Regions from separate parts of the Homo sapiens genome. Here region 2 is linked to region 1. The links come from fine-mapping of genetic effects on gene expression. A gene starts in region 1. The other region holds a variant in brackets. All regions are shown on one strand. Distances are between the middles of the regions.

Evidence for each region. PIP is the estimated chance that this variant, and not a neighbour inherited with it, causes the effect.
Region 2: its variant is fine-mapped to the expression of IDS in whole blood (TOPMed, PIP 0.93).

Annotation. Positions count from the first base shown.
Region 1 is chrX:149,501,944-149,512,064 of GRCh38, forward strand. It overlaps IDS (iduronate 2-sulfatase), which reads right to left and starts at 3,363. Exons shown (of 9, transcript NM_000202.8): 1 at 3,092-3,363; 2 at 2,214-2,350; 3 at 1,369-1,546. The coding sequence starts at 3,194. RefSeq lists enhancers at 1,942-2,490, 2,614-3,115, 3,108-3,267, 8,490-9,689 and a silencer at 2,452-2,551.
Region 2 is chrX:149,470,228-149,480,348 of GRCh38, forward strand. IDS (iduronate 2-sulfatase) reads right to left here. Exons shown (of 9, transcript NM_000202.8): 9 at 6,761-10,121. LOC107985667 (a long non-coding RNA gene) reads right to left here and starts at 1,910. Exons shown (of 2, transcript XR_001755972.2): 1 at 1,322-1,910; 2 at 677-1,150. RefSeq lists a silencer at 731-1,025. The variant C/T (reference allele first, on the strand shown) is at 6,466.

The DNA.
Region 1 (10,121 bases):
AACCTCTGGCAAGCTACTTGACTCCCATGAGCCTTCATGTCTTCCTTGGGAAATGATGATGATGATAAAAACCCACCTTGCTTGCTGTTGGGAGGATTAAAGGAGTGGCCAGCATGGTAAACGGTACATACCTGGCACACAGTGGTGGCTACTGTCATCTTGAAGCAGGCCCAATGCTAACAGAAAAAGGTCTTGAGAACAAAGATTCAGCTGAAAAATGTGTTCCCACAAGGGCTGCAGGGAAAGGTTTATTCTCTGAGAAGGACATGGTGCTTAGAGCCTGGTGCCAAAATCCAATCATCAGGAGGGAGGAGGTCAAGCAACATCACTCAGTCCTTGCCTGGTTTCCCCTCCCAAAGCACAATCTCCTCCCTCTGCTGTGTTTCCTCCTCTCTCCAAAATCATCACTTCCCTCCAGCTGCATTTGGGCAAGGGGTATGGTAATGAGAACACCAAACTGCAGAAAGTTCTCCTGACACTGGACTTTTGGCTGTGCAATATGATTCCTGACAGGTTCACCTCTGAAACTGGCCTGACTTAGTAGAGCTGAATGTCACTCTCAACCTGGGCTGGCCAGCTGAGCTCCTGCAGAAGGCTGCCAAGCCTGCCGGTGTAACCACTGAGCAAAGGGAAAGAGACTGAAAACATTCGTCATTCCCAAATGATAAGCATTATTGTCCCTATGGTGCTCTTGTCTTCCAATACTTTTTTCTCCATTTTTTTTCTCAAATACTCATGCATTACTTCTATAAATAAAAAGTTTTAAAGTTTGTTTGCTTTTCACTATCCCCATATTGGCATTAAAGAGAGCCAGTTTATCAGGCAGCATTTGAGGTAAGGAATGTCCGTCTCTGGGACCCTATAGATCCTGGGTACCAGATTACACTCATCTTTCTGACTTAATTTCCAGAGTGGATAGCAGCCCCTACCTAAGCACAGCCCCCTCATTGGGCAATAAGTCAGCAACAGCAATGCTGGCCACACGGGAGGCCCTCAGGTGTCCTCACCCCACCCCTAGGTTTACTGACAGGTACCCTGCAGGGGAGAGGGTGGGGCCCTGAGCTGGACTCCACCCAACACTGCCACCTCCCCAGCCTGTGTCCTCCCTACCACCCGAGGAGCTGAAAGACCCAACAGCACACCCTCAGTGGTTTCTGAAAGGAAGCAAAGCTCTTTCTACCCTTTTTCACTTTGGGTGAAAACGTGGCTGGGTTGACAAGTCAGTTTTTTAGAAAGGAAGCACTGACTAGCGAGGGACTCGCCCAGCCAGAAGAGGGCTCTGCAAAGACAGCCCCATCCCCAGGATGGGAATGCTGGATTCAGACACCACAAACCAAGAGAACCCAGACTCTGGACATGGAGCAGTACCAGGGTGAAAGACTTTTCCCACCGACATGGTCACATAGCCATTCTCCTTGAAGTACTGGGGGATGGTGGAGAAGTTTCCAGCGTGCACCCTCCAGTAGGAGTTGAAGTCGTACAGGCGGGTGGTGTCAGGTCTCCTGCCAGTGAGGAAAGAAACGCGGCTCGGGGCGCACACTGCTTGCTGTTAGGGAGCAGAAGCAGAGGTAAGCATCGCCACAGCAAAACATGTCTGCCATCTCTTAGGTAACCAAGCAACCGCCCTCCCGAGGCTCCTAGCAAACAGCTTGGTAGCTGAGTCATGCAGAGCTCAAACCAGACACTGGGATTTGGGTGTCACCTAGGCAACAGACTGCTTCCGGGAGAGAAAAGGGAAGCAATCAGCCCCTGAAACCAGCAGATGCTTATCTCCTCCTACGCAATGGCCTCCCCAGGCACACAGAGCGGCCAGTGTTGCTGGGGGCAGAGCCATGAGGGGGTTCAGGGAGCAGGGCCACCCTGGCTAGCTCTCACCTGAGGCCCAGCCTGCAGACCTGTGGGTGCCCTTCTGCAGCACCCCTTCCTTCTGAGCACCAGGCAAGCGCCCGTTCTGGGAGAAAGCTGGCCAGGGCTGCCATGAACACATCAGGGCCAGGGCGCACCTTGCACCCAAGGAGAAGGCCACCCTTGAAGGTCAAGCTTTCCCATGAGTGGAAAACCAGATTTTCTCCACTACCATTTTCCAGACTATGCTTCCCTCTAACAAGATGTCCCGCACAATCTGTGCCATCTGACAATAGCTGAAGCTCCCCGCCCCCAACCCTCAGTGCACGAAGCAGCACACACCCACAGCTAGAGGTTCCCAGACATACCTGCGCAAAGGCATTCTGGAAGAGGAGGCTGTGGGATGCCAGTTGGTCAATATTTGGGGACCTCACCAGCTTATCCCCATAACAGCCCAGGGAGGGGCGCAGGTCATCCACGATGATGAGAAGAACGTTCAGAGCATCTACACAGGAGGGAGGGGCTTTGGTGAGGTAACCTGCACTGACACTGAACCCTCCCTCATGGTAGGTGCTAGGTTACTAAGAGGCCCAAGGCTGGACCCTGCACCTTAACAGCCTAGCCAGGGAGGGCGCTGTGCCTCAGCAAGGGTGGGAGTGGGGCTCGAGGAGGAAGCCTGAGTCCTGGGTGGCAGGGTTAGGCTTTGGTCATGGCCTCCAACCTGGGTGAGGAAGCGAGATAGTGAGTGAAAGATGGTGGAAAGGAAAGATGAATTTAGGAAAAAAAGAGAATGATGTATGCAGGAAAGGACAGATGGTTGGATGGAGGAAGATAAGGAGGAAAAGATGAATAGCTGAAGGGAAGAAAGGATGGAGAGAAGGAGGGGAGAAGAGAGAGAAATATGAATGGATAGAAGGTAAAAGGGACGGATGGACCAATGGAGGGAGGAAAGGAGGGGGAAAGATGGATGGATAGAGATGGGAAAGATGGGGGGAAAGAGGAAGGGAAGCACGGAGGGATAGGAGATGGATGGATGAATAGATGGAAAGAGGGAAGGGAGGGATGAAGGGACGGTAGGAAGGAGTGAAAAATGGAGGGAGGGAACGAATGATGGATGAAAGAAGGAATGGTAGGAGAGAGGAAGGGTAAAAAGAATGGATATAAACAAAGAAGGAAGGAAAGAAGGAAGGAGGAAGGAAGGGAGGGAGGAAGGGAGAAGAGATGGCAGGGAGGGCGTGGGCGGCACCTGTGGTCGAGTTGGCCTGCGTTTCGGATCCGAGGGCGACGCAGACGGAGCTCAGAACCAGACCCAGCCAGAGAAGGCCTCGGCCGGTCCGGGGTGGCGGCATTTCGGCTTCGACGCGGCCGCTTCAGAGCGGCGGGGACAGGCTGCAGCAGGTGGCGCAGTTAGCAGCCGCCGCCGCAGCCACAGAGACCTCCTCGTCGGGAACCCATGAAGACTGCGCAACACAGCCGCCGCCCGGGCCCGCAGGCCCGGGCGCTGGCCGCAGCGCGAGTGCGTCCGTGCGACTCTTCCCTGCGTCCCTCCCCTCCGGGGCGGGTTCTAGAGGTGCGCGTCATCCTGCAGCAATAGGCGTGGCCGAGAGACAGGCGCAGAGCGGGGGCGGGCCAGTTGCCTTGCAAGCTTCGCAGACCCAGCGGCCCGCAGGCCCCTAGGTGTAGAACTGCTAGGGGTATAGCGATTCAGCCACTGCCCTTAACAACTAGCAGTTACCCGTCTTTTTGCCTTTGCTTGTGCTATGCCTTTCACCTGGAAGCCCTGCCCTTCCTTCTTTTTATAAAAGACACACTTCTTGTAAGCCAGCCTCAATGCCATTCTCCTTCCATGAGGCCTTTTGAGAAAGTCCCTTCCTCCATCTAAAGGGACTCCCTTTCCTATTCATTTCTTCAACTAATTCTTATTAAGTATCGCAAATATGTATACCAGGCGCTGTTGGTGGCACTGGGGCTCTATGTCCCTGCTTTGGTGGAGCTTAAAACAATAAAAAAATATAGAGAGTGTCGGTGGGCATACCCGGTCTGGAGAAAAATAAAGCGTGGGTGCGGGGCATGCTTGTTATTTTCTATGGGGTGGCCAGGCAGGGCCTCACTAGTGAAGTGGCATTTGAACAAAATTTTGAAGCAAGTGAGGGAGCAAGCCGCATTGAGGTCTGCAAGAAGGGTGCGCCAAACAGAGAGAGCAGCAATTGTGGGGAGATGGAATCCTAGCCCTACACTGTACTGTACTGAATACTATTATACCGTCCTAATACTGCAAACACAGTTTGATTTTCAACTTTGAGAATCAATCTATAACAAAGCCCAGATGACTTAATTATGACTAAACAACAATGGACAATGGGAAGGTACAAATACAGCTGTGATGGTGCTGTGGTGCACTGCTCAGATCTCCCTTCAACACCAAAAATTTTATTTCCCTAGCTGGCTTGAGAGCTGTTAGCTGTCGTTAGCCCTCATCAGAAATTGTCTTAGAAAAAGATAGGTACCTCAGCCAAGGTCACCCCTGTTCTCAGGAAGCCCACATCAGTGATTCAACTTGAAGGTACAAAGGTGCAGCCCCTTACCCCAACTTGGGACATCTCTGAAAGGCCATTTCAGCTTCAGAGCTCCCTGTGGGGTTAACTGAAGCCTTTTTTGAGACTGCCCACTTTCTCTGTCTGTTGAATTTTGATTTCTTCCCTCCCCTCCCCTTCTACAGGTGTTGATCCTAAGAGTACTCCCTAAGAAACTTCCTGCACATTACTCTACATCTTAGTCAGCTTCCTTGGGAACCTGGCCTGCAGCAACAGTTGACAAAAAGCTGGGAGGAGGAAGGGAGATGGCAGGAAATGTAGGCACATTAATTTAGGGTTAGCAATTTAGGATTGTCTCCTTTGCCCCAGCCTATCGCAAAAAAATAATAATAATAATAATAATAAATCAATAGTCGCTGTCCCCAGTTCATAGAAAGAGAAATACAGATTTAGGGATATTACTTAAAGATACAAAAGTAAACAATAGAAAACTTAAAAATGGCAATAAATCTATATAGTAAAAGGAGAAGGGAAAATGGCAGGGAGAGATGAAACAAAATTTGTCATGAGTTGATAACCAATGAAGTTCATTGATGAACACCTGGGGTTTATTATACTATTTTCTGTAATCTTGTATAGGTTTGATCAATTTCCAAAATCCAAGGTTAAAAATATGTACATAAAAAGAGGAATGGATAAGTGATCTCATCTATCATAGGAAGAAGTCAGCAATGTCTAAAGTTGAAAACATTAGAAAGTTGATATAGAAATAGCATAGTATTTAGAAAGACAGGGACAATCTACTAGAAGAAATGAAAGTAGAAACATTTAAAATGAGAACAGAAGAGGGAAGGTGCAGGGCAGAGGGCCTTTGCTTTGTATGGTATGTCTTTTGGTCCTTTTTGACTTAGGTGTTAGTGTCCTCCCCCCAAAAATTGTATGTTGGAGTCCTAACACCCAGTACCTCAGAATGTGATCTTATTTGGAAACAGGGTCTTTAACAGGGTAATCAAGTTAAAAGGAGGTAATTGGGTTGGGCCCTAATCCAATATGACTGGGGTCCTTATCAAAAGAAAAAATTTGGACACAGACACAAACACATAGAGAGAAGACATCCATGTGAAGACAATGGATTGAAGTGATGCATCTACAAGCCAGTGGATGCCAATGATTGCCAGCAAACCACAAGAAGCTAGGAAGAGGCAAGGAAGCATTCTTCTTCTATAGGTTTCAGGGGGTGCATGGTCCTGCTGGCACCTTGATTTAAGACTTCTGGCCTCCAAAACTGTAAGACAATGCATTTCTGTTGTTCTAAGCCATGTAATTTGTAGTACTTTGTTACAGCAGCCCTAGAAAACTAACACTACCTATAAACAATTCAAAATTTAACAAGATTGATTGTCTCAGCTGGGATAGAAAATTATATATGCCACTTGGCACAATTGTGTGTGTTTGTTTTTGTTGTTTGTTTGCTCTGGTGTAAGCTCGAGGTTTTGCTGGGGCTCATAGCAGCAGAAGGACAAGAGTGGGAGCAAGTGGAGAGAGCCAGTAAGAGAGCAGTTCAGGTGGCTGACAGTGGTTAAGAAGACTGGTGGACTGGGGACAAACAAAGATCTAGGAGATGGGTGAGGATATAGAGAGGCAGCAAGGGTGTGAGAGTACTGGTTTTAGTCCCAGAATGAGACCCTGAAATTTAAGATTTCTGAGGTAAAACAGATCCTGGTGATTTAAAGGTCAAGGATGTGGCCTTGAAGCTGGGAGGCTGAGGTGGGGGGGAAGAGATTGCTAGAGGTTAGAGATGAGGAAGAAGTCAAGGGTCTGTGAGTGGCACAGGCTGCTGATGAATACACTGCAGTCCCCCAGAATGATGACAGGACACAGGGTACCAAGGTCACCTGTGAGCCTGGTACCTGAGTCTTCAGTGAATGAGGGATAAGGGCCAATCAATGCTATGTAACAAATGACCACAAGCTTAGTGGCTGTAAACACTACTCATTTGTCACCTCCTACTTTCTGTGGGTCAGAAATCCAGGCACAGCTAAGCTGGGTCTTAGGTTCAGGGTCTCAAAAGGCTGCAGTGAAGGACTACATTCTCACTTAAAGCTCGGGATTGTGGATAGCACAATCCACAGGTGCTCAAGTCCTTTATATAAGATGGTGCAGTGTTTACATATAACATACATACACATCCTCCCGTATACTTTACATTACCTCTAGATTACTTATAATCCCTAATACAATGTAAGTGCCATGTAAATAGTTATTATACTGCATTATTTATGAAATAATGACAAGGGAAAAAAGTCTGTACATGTTCACTGCAGAGACAACCACCCATCTTTTTCAAATTCAACAGGTGGTTGAATCCACAGATGTGGAACACATGGATAAGGAGGCTGATTGTAGTACATTCTACCCATACACAAGGGGTCACATACACTAGGAGGCAGGAAACTTGGGGGCCATCTAGAATGGCATCTACCACAAAAGAGCCCTATCTTGAGTCTCAACTCCAACAGATAACAGAAAATTTAATCTAGTCAATTCCACATTTTCCCAGTTACTTCGGGATTGTCTTACTAATTACCAATTATTGTTATCAAGCAATTTAGGATTGTCTCCTTTGCCCCAGCCTATCACCTAAATTCTGTGAGACTCTTAAATTCGGAGAGAGAGAGCAAGAGAGAAGAGAATCTGCTTGTTGTCAATGGCAACCTGTCCATGCCAGCATCCACTCCCAATGTACAATCCCATCCAGCGCTCAGAGATGGCATACCTTCATGCTGTCTTCCAATGTGGTGTCGTCATTCTAACCTGGTTCCTAGCTGCACAGTCCATGCCATTTTCTATGTGACATTTTTTGGAGACGTGCTCTCCCTCTCGCTCTCTCTCTCCCCCTCTCCCTCTCCCTCTCTCCCTCTTTCTCTTTCCCTCTTTCTCTCTCCCTCCCTCTCTTACCTCCTTGGAGGCACGGGAAAATTCAACTGCTTTCCCATGCCACTTTAGTGTCACAGGAAGCTCAGGGGACTGCTCCAGACACTTCTGCAGCTAAGATATGTGGATTTGGTGTGAGAGGAGTTCTAGGACTCTGGACCTTCTAGGGTACCATACAGCAAAGGGAGTCCCCTTGCTCTTGGACTTCTACCCTACCCCCGCCTTTGAGCCTAACTCCAGGAGGAGGGGACAATGCACACTGGCAAATTGGTATATAGTCCCACACAATGGTAGGATGAGGATTCAGGGGAGAATTCAAGATTTGTCTCTCATTCCAGATCCAGGGATCCTTGGATGGGCACCCCTCAAGGGCAGGCTCTGCCCTGTCCATTTACTACTGTATCCCAGGGGCTAGTACCTTCGTGGGGTTTCAAGGGCTCGGGATGAGAACCATGATGAGAACTACCTGGATGAGGAAAGGGAGTGTCCCAGGCTGTCCTCAGCCCAATGCCAGTGAGGGCTCTCTCCCCTGCAGAGTCATAGGGAGGGCCCTGGGCTCTGTAGGCACGTGAAATGGTGTTCCAAGGAGGAGTCTAACGTGGGCTGTGAATGTTACCCAAATGCGCTGGGCACGGAGGGCACTGTTCCCAGAAGAGACTATCTCAAGGTGCGTGAGGCAACGTGCTAGAACTCTGCTCTCAATCTGAACTCTGGAGAGTATAGATGGTCATCCATAGGCATCTAGTTCCGTAGCCAGGTCTGTGCTACCCTGAGGACTAAGGTGCAGCAGTAGCAGCCCTAGGCTCCCTGGGGTTCCAGAGGAGTGAAAGTGAATGGCAACACAGCCAGAATCTGATTCTGTTTTACTTCCCAGGAAGAAGTGAAGCCGCATGGAGCATGAGGGGGCAGCCAAGGGGCTGGGCATCACAGAAGCCCTGACATTTGCTGGGCTCCTACCCTGCATCACATACTATATCAAAAACTTTAGGAGCTGAGATATTCTCTCACAATGGAAGAGGTTAGTCTCAGTCCCGTTTGCCTGTGGACATCTTGCATCGTCCTCTGAACAATCTTTCCCTTCCTTCCTCTTCTTTCCAGTTCTCGTCCCACCGTCTTCCCTCTCTTCTTTTCTTTTTTTTTCTCCCCTCAAGCCCAAGACTTTCCTGTCATGCCAGGCAATGATTCAGCCACTTCAGTTCTGGGTGGATGGATAGGCAGGGCTTAGAGCAGGCAACCCTCATGCTGTCAAAGCCAAAAAGTAGAGGAATTATAAAAGCCTCCACCAGGGGTTGCCTAAGCTCTGGTGTTTTGCCCCCACTACTTTAAAGGCGATTCGTTTAAAACAAAACAAAACGAAAAACAACAACTTACTTTGTAAAGCATAAGCTTAAAATAAGAAAAACAGAAGTGCCTAATCAGATCTTTGGAAGTATTGCATTGCACTGTCACTGAGTGATGTATGACTGGCTGTCTTTCTGTTTGGACTGCATTCATCTGAATGGAGTGGGTACATTGGCTACCGCCTTTTCTCCTGGTTTTCGCTGTTTCTCTTTGATCTAGAAACGATTTATTCTTACTCCCCCAGATTTCTTTATAAAAAGCCACAGGGAAGGGAAACAATGATGGCCGTTTGGGAATAAAGGAGGGCTCTCACAGTTGAAGTTTTCTCCATCTGGGCTTGGGTAAGGAGAAGGGCTTCTGGTCCCTCAGGCCTGTCAGTCATATACCTGGGACCTGTCCCGTGGTCATATAGACCAGACCCTGCACACCTGCAGTCTCAGGTTCTGACAAGCAGATATCTTGCAAAGCGGAGCCCACAGCTGGAATTCAAGGCAAAGCCCATCCCCTCTTGCCAGCAAGGCAGGAGTGTCCCTTCTGAAGTAAAAGCCAGAGGACAAGATGGACTGGGAAACACTGCAAAGACATTGCTCCTCGGCCTTTGGTGACGTTCCTCCAAGGTCCCCTCTCACAGGTGTGTTATGAGACATACCTCAGGCATGAGTGGACGCATCAACAAAAGGAATAGCTAAACACAGCCTGAAATAGGATGCCTTCAAGGGGACAAACAGAAGTGTAGGAGGAAGGATCTTCAAAGACATGCCAAATTACCGTGACTCATTACCATGGCCCTCTTAAGATCAGTGCTCGCAAGAAGTCAGTAGTTTATGCCAAACAAGTATAGCAAGAAGAGCAACCTTGCTGGGTGGGTGAGGAAAATCAGTCCTCTTTTCTATGACATGAGACTAATTATTAAAAGAATTTCAATTTTGTCTTTACCAAGACATGAGTTCCTTATGTACTGCATGCTGTCTTCTGCTTTTTATTTGAAGAAATGTGGCATTTGGGAAGCAGCAGATGTCCCCCCTGTGGAATCAATGTGAAATGATATTTTTGTAACATCATTAAAAAGTCTATCAAAATGGGAAATTTCTCTAACACTTTCTAAGGGACCAATAAAAACACTCAGAGGAGGAAGGCTTATCAGCGGAGATTCTTGCTAAAGGGCAAGTGTATTCACATATGAAACATAGTTTTCAAAGTCCTCAGAGCCCACAGCTGGGATTTCTTTCCATCGAATCTTGGAGCCTAAGCATTGCAGTTAAATCCTGGGCAGGAGCAAAGCCTCGAGGCCCCCAGTCTTAACCCTTACTTTGTATCCCAATGCAGAAACCACCAGCTTGCCCCCAGCTGGCTGCCTGGTTCCCACCTTTCTGATTGATGGTGGCTAAGCAGTCACATGATAGGGCAGTCTAAAGAGTATAAACTCTGTTGGCACAATGTCTCACACCTGTAATCCCAGCAGGCGTG
Region 2 (10,121 bases), 32 kb before region 1:
AACATTACCTCCAGTTACTGTACAGATCTCTTCCTCTGAGACCCCTTCCCAACAGGCAGGTCTAAGAGCCTATTTGTTCTCTGTGAGAACATGTGACACATATTACCGCCCACATTGGAATAGAACTCTGTGCTCAGCTTCAGTTCTGACCACTTCCCAGCTCTGAGTGCCCTCAGGGCACCAGGGTACCTCCTTGCTACCTCACCGGAGTCACCCTTTCTGTGAAGGGAGGCCAGATTTTACGGATAAAAACACAGGACTCCCAATTAAATTTGAATTTGAGATAAACAATGAATAATTATGTCGTATAAATATGATCCATGTACTACGTGGGACATACTTATATTAAGCAATTATTTATTGTTCATCTGAAATTCATATTTAACTGGGCATCCTGCATTTTATCCAGCAGCTGTATTCCTGCGGCCCACGTGGTGGTTGGCACCTGCCGCCAATACTGCTTGATAGAGAAAATAGCATAATATTTTGCAATAGTATTTGGGGATGAATACTATAGGCTGCAAGGGTAACATTTGTGCATTTGTGTCGTTTTTGGAAGACGTTTCCATCATGTATAAAGCCTGTGCCTCGTGGATTGCAAATGAGACCCAGTTCCGGGGGGGGTGGGAATGAGAAAGCAGTTAGAAAAGAACCCCAGGGGATCTGAGACCCGAGCTTCATCTGCCGAGTATTTTATTCTCGTTAATTCATAACAGTGTCTTTAAAATCCTGGACTAGAATTTGAGAACAGTCAGTGTGTGCGACAGTCATTACTCCTTGGAGACTCCCACTCCGCCAGCCGGGCGCCCTTCGTGCGTTCTTGGTGCCACAGCGGCCTCCAGTGGTTCTCTGAGGAACCACACGCTGTCTCCACCGCCAGGCTCCAGCTTGTCCCTAAAGCCAGGGCGGAAGGCGGCGGCGCCCTGTGGCTGCCCAGGGGCCTGGGCTGTGTGGCCGGATCAGAGCTGTAAGGCACAAATCCAAGTGCGCGCCGCCGTGGAAACAAAGCCCTTCCCTGTTGCTGTGAAGCTCAGACCAGACAGGGTTCTATTTCATCTTCCACGCCAACGTGTAACGTATCTGCTGACCCAATTTTACAGATGTTCTCTTCAAAACGGACTCGGCTTTGTGAATATTTTTCTCTATCAAGCTGTGGTGATAGAAATGTCAAAAAGCAGGTTGGGGGGGGCTTGAAATAGAATGAGACACTGTTCTGCTCAGAATTGATTCTTATTCTATCAATTGGTTGGACTGGAATGAATAGTGGGAAAGGTAAAACCACTGGAATTAGGACCCCCTACCCCTGCCCAGTGCCTCTTACCGCCAACCTAGCAACAGCCTCGCTTCATTTCCTAGAAAGGGCGGCACCAGCGATCCATTATTGAAAACACGCGACTCCCATAACCTTGTTCATTTTCATATGTGTAGCTCAGGGCAAGAGGTTCTCTGCTACGGCTTCCCTTTGATTTGAAAGCAATACAAAGAATAAAGGAAAATCAAAACTGTGGCCATAGCAAGGCTGACGCTTGATCCTTCCACACACATGTGTGCCCCCCAGTTACTACAAAGGCAATTTTCCAAACGGGTGGTCGCCAGCCTTCTTCCTTTCACAAAGTGATTTTCTGGCGGTTTCATAGCTTTGAGGTGGCTCCTTTGCACATCATTTCAGCTGAAATCTACTCCCTGGATCGGGAGACCCAAGAAGAGAAACCTTGTGGAAGCAGCAGTCCTTGCAGAAGACTGGACTTGGAGGTGGGCTGAAAATAGACTTGGTGGACTTGGATCTGAGGCTGCTTCCACTTGGCTAGCTGTGTCTCCTTGGTGGAGCTGCTTGCCTCCTCTGGGCTTTAAGCTCCCACCTCAGAATAAGGAGCTGCAGTGGTGCATGCCTGTAGTCCCAGCGACTTGGGAGGCTGAGGTAGGAGAATCGCTTGAGCCCAGGAAATCGAGGCTAGCCTGGGCAACATAGGGAGATCCTGTCTCTAAAAAAGCAAAAGGAAAATAAACAAATAAGGAGGTGGATGAGTGTCCTTCCAACTCCCAGTCTCTGATTCAAGCTACGGTACCTTTGGTCTTTCTCAAACTCTTTAAAGACAATTATTTTCATTCATTCATTTAGCAAACATGTAAGTGCCTAAATTTGCCAGGCCCTAGGTTAGAGGCTTAGTCTAGAAAAATGAATAAGAAATGTCCCCTTCCTTAGAAATAGGTCATTGCAAAGCAACGTAAGAAGTACTAGAGGGAAGATAGGAACTCAGGTTCTGTGCACTCTGCTGATGGGAGTGTGAATTTGTGCTACCTCTCTGGAGGAAATTTGGCACTAACTTCCAGATTTTCAAATGCAGACACTTCATCAATCAGGAGCCCTGGTTGTTTTACTGACTAGTTAATTTAAGCAGAAAAAAAAGGTTTTTTCTTTTTTGTCTGTTTGTTTTTGAAAGGCTTGAGTAGCTCATAGAATCCCAGAGAAGGCCAAAGTCTCAAACCTAAAAAACAGGTAAGGACAAAGGTGACCAGGCAAGCTGCCATAACCACACAAAAACAGTTTGGTAACCATAGTGACACTACCAGTGCTGGACACTGGTGGTTAACATCACCACAGAGCCTTCCTCTGGGGGAAGATGAATTCACACTGGTTCCTGCTTTACCAACTCAAGGAGGAAAGCATCTTGCTGAGTTGAGTCAAAGTCATATGCCTGCTGTCTAGCCACAAGGAAGTCATGGGAAAATGAGCTCCTGGCACTTTGCACCTCTGCAGTGGCAAGAGGGCTCTCCCTGCCTGCCACTCAAAATAATTGAGTGCAGAATTTCCCAAGTAGAGAAAGGCACTTAGGATGCTGGTGTCCAACATCATGTCAAATGTCCTCTACACATGCTTTTGACCCAAGAATTCTATTTCTACAATTTTATCCTTTAGAGATACATTAATACACAAGTGCACAAAGATGGCTGCATGGTGATGTTCTCTGCATCATAGTTTGTAATAGAAATGACACTGGAAACAACCTAAAGAGTCAGCAATAGGAGCTTAGGGAAATGACAGAAAACAATGCGGCCATTATGAACACTGTATTCATTCATTCCACAAACATTTGTTGTGGGTGTTACTGTGTACTGGGCACTAGGAGGCAATGATGCAAAAATAGACACTCTCTACCCCCATGGAGCTTTCTGGGGAAACAGATACAAATGAAATAATTACACAAACCAGTGAAAAAGTACAACCAAGCTGAGGACTATGAAGAAGTGGTATGTGTGTGATGCAAGCTGCTATGCAACCTAGTCAAAGGCATCAGGGAAGAATGCCCTTGGAAAGGAAGGGTTAAGTTGGCCATGAAGATGGAGTAGGAGTTAAAACAAGGAGGTGTGGCAGGTCAGCAGGGGGCAAACCATGAATGGTCTACACAAAGGGCAGGTTCAGGTGTTTTCTGCTTGTCCACATAGTAATGGGAAGCCATTGGGAGGGAGGGAGAGCAGGGAGGTACAAGCGGTAGGCAGAGACACAATCAGGTTTGCATTTTGCAAAGATCATATTCAGAACTGTGTGAACTTGTTTGCAGTGTAGCAAGAGTAGGAGATCAGTTAGGAAGTGGTTCCATGTCCAAGTGATAGGAGATGGCTTCAGAATGGTACCCGGTGGAGGTAGAAACCTGGATGGATACACTGATACACAAAGTATCAGTGGATGCATGTATCAGATGGATACATGGATACACAAAGAGGTAAAATCCACAAGGCCTGGTGATGGATGTCTCTATTCCATAGAGTTTCTGGGCTATCCAGGGCACTCTGTGAGCAAACAGAGTCATGAAACTCAAGGCTAGGAAAAGCAGCATCCTCAGTATTATCTTTTGTGGAAACACTCACATTTATTAGACGTCATGGGAGAGGAAGGAAACTCAGAGGTTTCTAGTTTTGTCCTCCAGGAAATGGCCTCACATGTTTATATGGAAATTCTTCCAATTTGTGTGTCACAGAAATTTGGAATTGGGGAAGCCCTTAGAAATCACACAGTGTGAAAAGCAGACTAGAGGTGCCATGCCACCACACACCCAGGTTGTAAAACAGGATGTAGAAAAACCAATAGGAGATAGAGTATGAACCATTTTTTTATATATGTATTATTCAGGGGAAGGACTATGCCAAGTAAACAGTGGTGTTAGATTATTTTCTTTGCTTTTGTATATTTTTCTAATTTTTCTGTGATGAATATGTAATAATTTTTCAACTGAGAAAAAATGCAATATTATTTTTTAAAAGAAATCACCTATTTAACATCTTTTCTATGGGTGAGGAAACTCAGATGGGAGGGTCTCTCCACTGAACAGGAAGAAAGAGAAATCCAATCTACTACTACTACATGAAATGGTTTGTTATTAAATCATCTTGATTTGAAAGCTCCTTGCAATCTTTAAAAATGTATTCAAGGCTATATGCAAAGGGCCAATCACCTGATATAGTCAGCATGCTATTTTAATAATTGAGCATGCATTCTCCAATCATAGAAGTCTCAGAGAAAGAGGGGATTTTAGTAGTTTTTCTTTCTGTAGCAAATGTTTGCCTATGTTAGAGTTTCTCGGCCTTGGAACTATTGCCATTTGGGCCAGATAGTTCTTTATTGTTCTGGGGGAGGGGGTGCTGTCTGTGTGTGATTCCTATCATCCCTGGCCTCTACACACTAGATGCTAGTAGCAGCCTTTCCCCAGTTGTGATAACCAAATATGACCCTAGACACTGACAAATGTCCCAAGAGGAGAACTGCTCTCTATTGAGAACCTCTTGCCTACGTGATGCTTACATAGCTCAGATGACAGCTCACCACACTTAGGAGCAGGCTCCTTCAATGGTAAGCTGCTATGTTAGAAAGTTCAGCCTCTGTTTTTTAATTTTTTTTTTTTTTTTTTTTGGCGGAGTCTCACTCTGTCACCAGGCTGGAGTGCAGTGGCACGATCTCAGCTCACCGCACCCTCCACCCCCCAGGTTCAAGCAATTCTCCTGCCTCAGCCACCCAAGTAGCTGGGACTACAGGTGCACGCCACCAAGCCTGGCTAATTTTTTTTGGTTTTTTTTGTATTTTAGTAGAGACAGGGTTTCACCAAGCTGCCCAGGCTGGTCTCGAACTCCTGAGCTCAGGCAATCCACCCGCCTTGGCCTCCCAAAGTGCTAGGATTACAGGCATGAGCCACCACACCCGGCCGAAAGTTCAACCTCTGGATGGCCATCTGTCTCCTTGCAGGGTCCAGTGCTGGATCTTCCCTTGGGGCTCTAGATATCATGTGTTTAATCTCTCTTGCCTCTGATGGTTCTTCAGAAATTTCAAGATAGTGCCATGCTCTCCCCCCAACCCCCTACTTTTACCCACCCGAGTCTTTTCTCTCCCCATTTGAACACTTCTTCAACTGTTCCTCACATGATATGCTGGGTCTCACCCATCTTAGGGCTGTCCTCTGAACAGGCTCCAGTTTGTCCACATTTCCATGACAGCTCCATGTTCGCAACTAAACACAATTCTCCAGGTGCTGGCTGACCGTGACACGTAGGCAGAGCAGCTTACCTCCTCCTTCCTCCTGGATATCCATTTATGTAGCCTGAGATGCCTTTCACTTCCTGGCAGCCACATCACACCGCATCCCCATTCTGAGCTGTTGGCCACAATGTAAAAGGGTTGCATGTGCAATACTGCTCCCTTGGGTCACCCCTCACTAGCACCTTGGTTCTGGGGCCTTCCTGTTAGGTCTCCATTTATCCTTTTCAAACTTCAGCAGTTTCCAAGAACTGGTAGGCATGCTTGCCTCTGAGGATAATAGGGTAGCTGGGAACAGCATGGAAGAGGAAATGACTCTTCATTGTATACATGTTTGTGCCTTTGTTTGAGACAAGGTCCCACTCTGTCACTCAGGCCAGAGCGCAGTGACATGATCAGAGCTCACTGCAGTCTTGAACTCCCAGGCTTAAGTGATCCTCCTGCCTGTGCCTCCCGAGTAGCTGGGACTAGAGGTGCCATGCCACCACACCCAGCTAATTTCTTTAAAAATTTGTGTAAAGATGGGTGTCTTGTTATGTTGCCCTGGCTAGTCTTGAGCTTCTGGCCTCAAGCAATCCTCCCTCATGTTTGTGCCTTTTAAACTTCGCACCATACATAATAAACAAGCCAGTAAATGAATACATTGAAGTTACTTCACCTGCTGAGATTTACTCAATCCTTCCAGCCTGCCTTTATCTATTTGGAAATGTATGTCTTCCAATGTCCTCACCAATATAAGAAGCACTGCCTTCCGAATTTTTAGTCGAAACCAGTAGGATAGGTAGAAAAAGATAAACTAAGGCTCATGAAGACACTAAGCCAAGACCACTAAACAGGCAAATTTCCAGTTGGAACCCCAAGAACCCACTAATTTGCTTCCTTTACCTTGTTGCTATTGCATATATGGTTTCCCTAAGCCTACCTAATTGGTCAGCCCACTT[C/T]CTCTTTCTTTCTGGGGAGTCTCTGTACTGTAACTGCAGGGCAAGCTGAGAGACATACCACTGCCCAGAAAAGTGTGTCTATGGTCAAGTGCAACTCACCATCTACCCTCAAGAATTCAACTCCCTAATAAAACCCACACCACAGCTGCCTTGGCCCTCACATGGGGAGGAACAGGTTGGATACTTTAAGGGGGCACACCTGTACCACGGTATCAAGCTCTGTTAAATGGCTCCTTTTATTTTAAGGCAGCACCAAGCGGTCCCAAACCAGCAGCAAGAATTGCACACACGATAATGGCAAATTTAATGTGATTTATTCATATAATAACTCATGCTGCACTTAACACAATACAAACTTATGTTTTTCAATAGTGTAGAAGATGTGAATTCATAAAAGCTGTAAGTTAATGAGTACTGAATAAAAATCACCTGCAAAAGGTTCTTTCAGAAACACACCCAAAACTACAATAAATTAGGGCAAGGGGTTTGTAAATGGCAGCTTCAGTCCTACTCCAAACCTTCTCACCCATATAAATCATAGTCCCTGACTTTTATAGAGGAAAAACCAAAAGCAGTTAACCCCTGGCCTTTGCTCCTCTCCTTGTCCACGTCCCAACTCTTGTTTCCTAGCATGTGCTGAATACACTACTAGACCTTGAGCTTTTGTTCCTCATTGGCAGTGGGAGCCCTCTTGCCTGGGCCGTCACATTACTCAGAGCCAAGTACCTGAGGGTTGGCTCCCAGCCACCTCATCTGGAACCAACTTGTCGGTTTGTTCTCTCCCACCCAAACTCTTCCCCCATCAGAGGATAAGGACTATCACCTAGAATCCAGAATCAAACAAGGGCATCCTTTGGTGATTAGCACCATACATGACAGTGATGTCAGGCAGGGCATGGAGTAATAGCCGGGAAACTCTGATCCCAAAGAAAACCCTTGAGCGTGGGCTCCCCACAACAGACTGTGTTTTATCAGACACTCAGAGGAAAGTGGCATCTGTCCCATCAGGTGAGTTAGTGGACAGGGACACCAACGGGAGCTTTCAGTAACATGTGGAAAGGCAAGACCCAAGAGCAGTGAGGGCTCTTGGCCATTATGGCCAAACGATTGGTGATGTGAAGGCAACAACTGACAGTCCTCTCTGCTTGAAGTTCTCATGTGCAGAAGAGAGAAACTGTCCTGAAGTACCAGGGGACCACTGAGTGCAGTGGGGCTGATGGCAGGTTCCACCACAACGGGCTATGCCTAAGGCCCCAAGGGACACCCTGGGTTCTACTTTAATCCCAGATCCCAGGCCAGAATTCAAGAGATTCCTCTGAAGAGCTATAACCTGCAGGATGGACTTGGGAAAGGAAAAGGGGCTGAGCCTCTATTTGGGAGTTTATACCCAAAGCGCTTCACACAGTAAGGTATGGACAGCTTGGGAACCTGACAGGCGGCAAAAGATTGGGCAGAGAGGGAAGAGTCAGTTTCCCTCTGTAGCTAGGGTGAGGCTGCTCCAGAGTCACTTGGTTACCTCCCAGCACAAACCCCAACATCTTAAGTGATTAAAGATTAATGTAGGTTGGGTGTATACCCAAAACAATTAAGAGCAGGGACTCGAACAGATATTTGTACATCCTTGTTGACAGCAACATTATTGCAATGGCCAAAAGGTAGAAATGACCCAAGTGGTCACTGGTGGATGAATGGATAAGCGGAACGTGGTACATACATTTCAGTCCAAAAAAAAAAATTAATGAAGCAGGGCTGTGCAGCCATTACAGCTGTTAATCAAGAACTGTCAATGACATAAAAAACCAAGCTAACATTGTGTTAGATCAAAAAAACAAGATATAGATTATATGTGGTAGTCTGCATGTATGTAAAGCTAAATATGTCCATATCTGCATATATGTCTTTAGGCAGGTAAAAGAATGAAAGGAAATATACAAATGTCAGCAGTGGGTATGTCTCAAATGCTGGGCTTCTTTTCATCTCCAGTTTTCACATGTTCCAGATTTTATGCAATGAGCATATATTACTCTGATAATGGGGTGGAGAGACACAGTAAGCATAAAACCAAACCCCAAACAATGCAAAGGAAAATGAATATTTATTCAATGTCCAGATTGGGGAGGGGTCTGTGTGTTTAACAGGAAAAGATACAGAAAAAAACCTATCACACAGGAAAAGATAAATATGTTTGATTATTTTAAAAGGTGAAACCCATAACCAAAATTTAAAGGCAAATTCACACAAGTGGAAATACAGATGCCCAACTATCGTACAAAGAGAACCATGATCAAGGTCACTAACAAGCAAAGAATTTTAAGTTTTTTTTGTTTTTTGTTGTTTTTTATTTGAGACGGAGTCTCGCTCTGTCACCCAGGCTGGAGTGCAGTGGCGCGATCTTGGCTCACTGCAACCTCCGCCTCCTGGGTTCAAGCAATTCTCTGCCTCAGCCTCCCAAGTAGCTGGGATTACAGGCGCCCGCCACCACGCCCGGCTAATTTTTGTATTTTTAGTAGAGACGGGATTTCACCATCTTGGCCAGGCTGGTTTTGAACTCCTGACCTCGTGATCCACCCGCCTCAGCCTCCCAAAGTGCTGGGATTACAGGCGTGAGCCACCGCGCCCGGCAAGAATTCAAAGTTAAAACAGGTTACCACTTTCACCTATTACCATCAGGTTGCTTATTTTTGTTTTATGTTTTTTATTTGTATGCATGTTTACTTTATGTTTCAGTTTACTACCCCCTAAGGCAGCAAGAGAGCAGGAAGATAAGCAAAATAGAGATGTTTTTGACAACTTGGCACTGAGAGACTATCCTAAGGGAATAATCTGAAATACATAAAAACATTTTATTCACAAAATTGGTCATCACAGCATTATTTACAATACTGAAAATCTGGAAATAGCCTAAATTTCTAACAATTGAAAGAAGGTTAAGTAAATTATAAGACTACACAATAAAATATATTACCAGCAATATATCTTTGTGAAAATCTATAATAACCACACATAATACTTAGTAAAAAAGAACATAAATTACATGATAAAGAATATGACCAGAACAATGCAAAAAATTCACACCCCCAAAAAAGACAAGATATTATATGGCAATTTTGTGGTAAAATATTCATGTATTTGTGCTGCATTTCTAATTTTTCCGTAACTGACACATCAGTTTTATAATTAGGAAAAAAATACCTTTTTAAAGTAAAGCGAACACAAGATTCTTTAGCAATGTTCATTCCATCCCACAATAGAGTCTAGAGAGTCACAAAAACCTCAGCCTCCTTCGGGAGGGGGGGAGCTTGGTAGTGAAAAATGGTCATGAATGAATGGGTGAAGAGAGGGATGGGACAACCTAGTAGGAGGGAGGTAGGGATAGGCAAGGGAAAGGTGGGGACCAGTAGTCATACTGGTCAGCCAAGGAAAGGGGCATTGTGGAGTCAGGGAAGACTCTGACTGCTCAACAGAGGTCTGTCTAGACCCAGTAGTAGGCACTGACGGTGTTATCAAAGGACAGGATCAAAGAGAGATTTTAGGAAGACACGTGGATTATTTTAGGGACAGGGGAGGAAAGAGGAGGGGTGGGTAAACTACTTGGAAAGAAAGGGAGAAGGACTGAGAAGATGGCAATGGGAGTGGGGAGGAAGGGGCTGATTGCC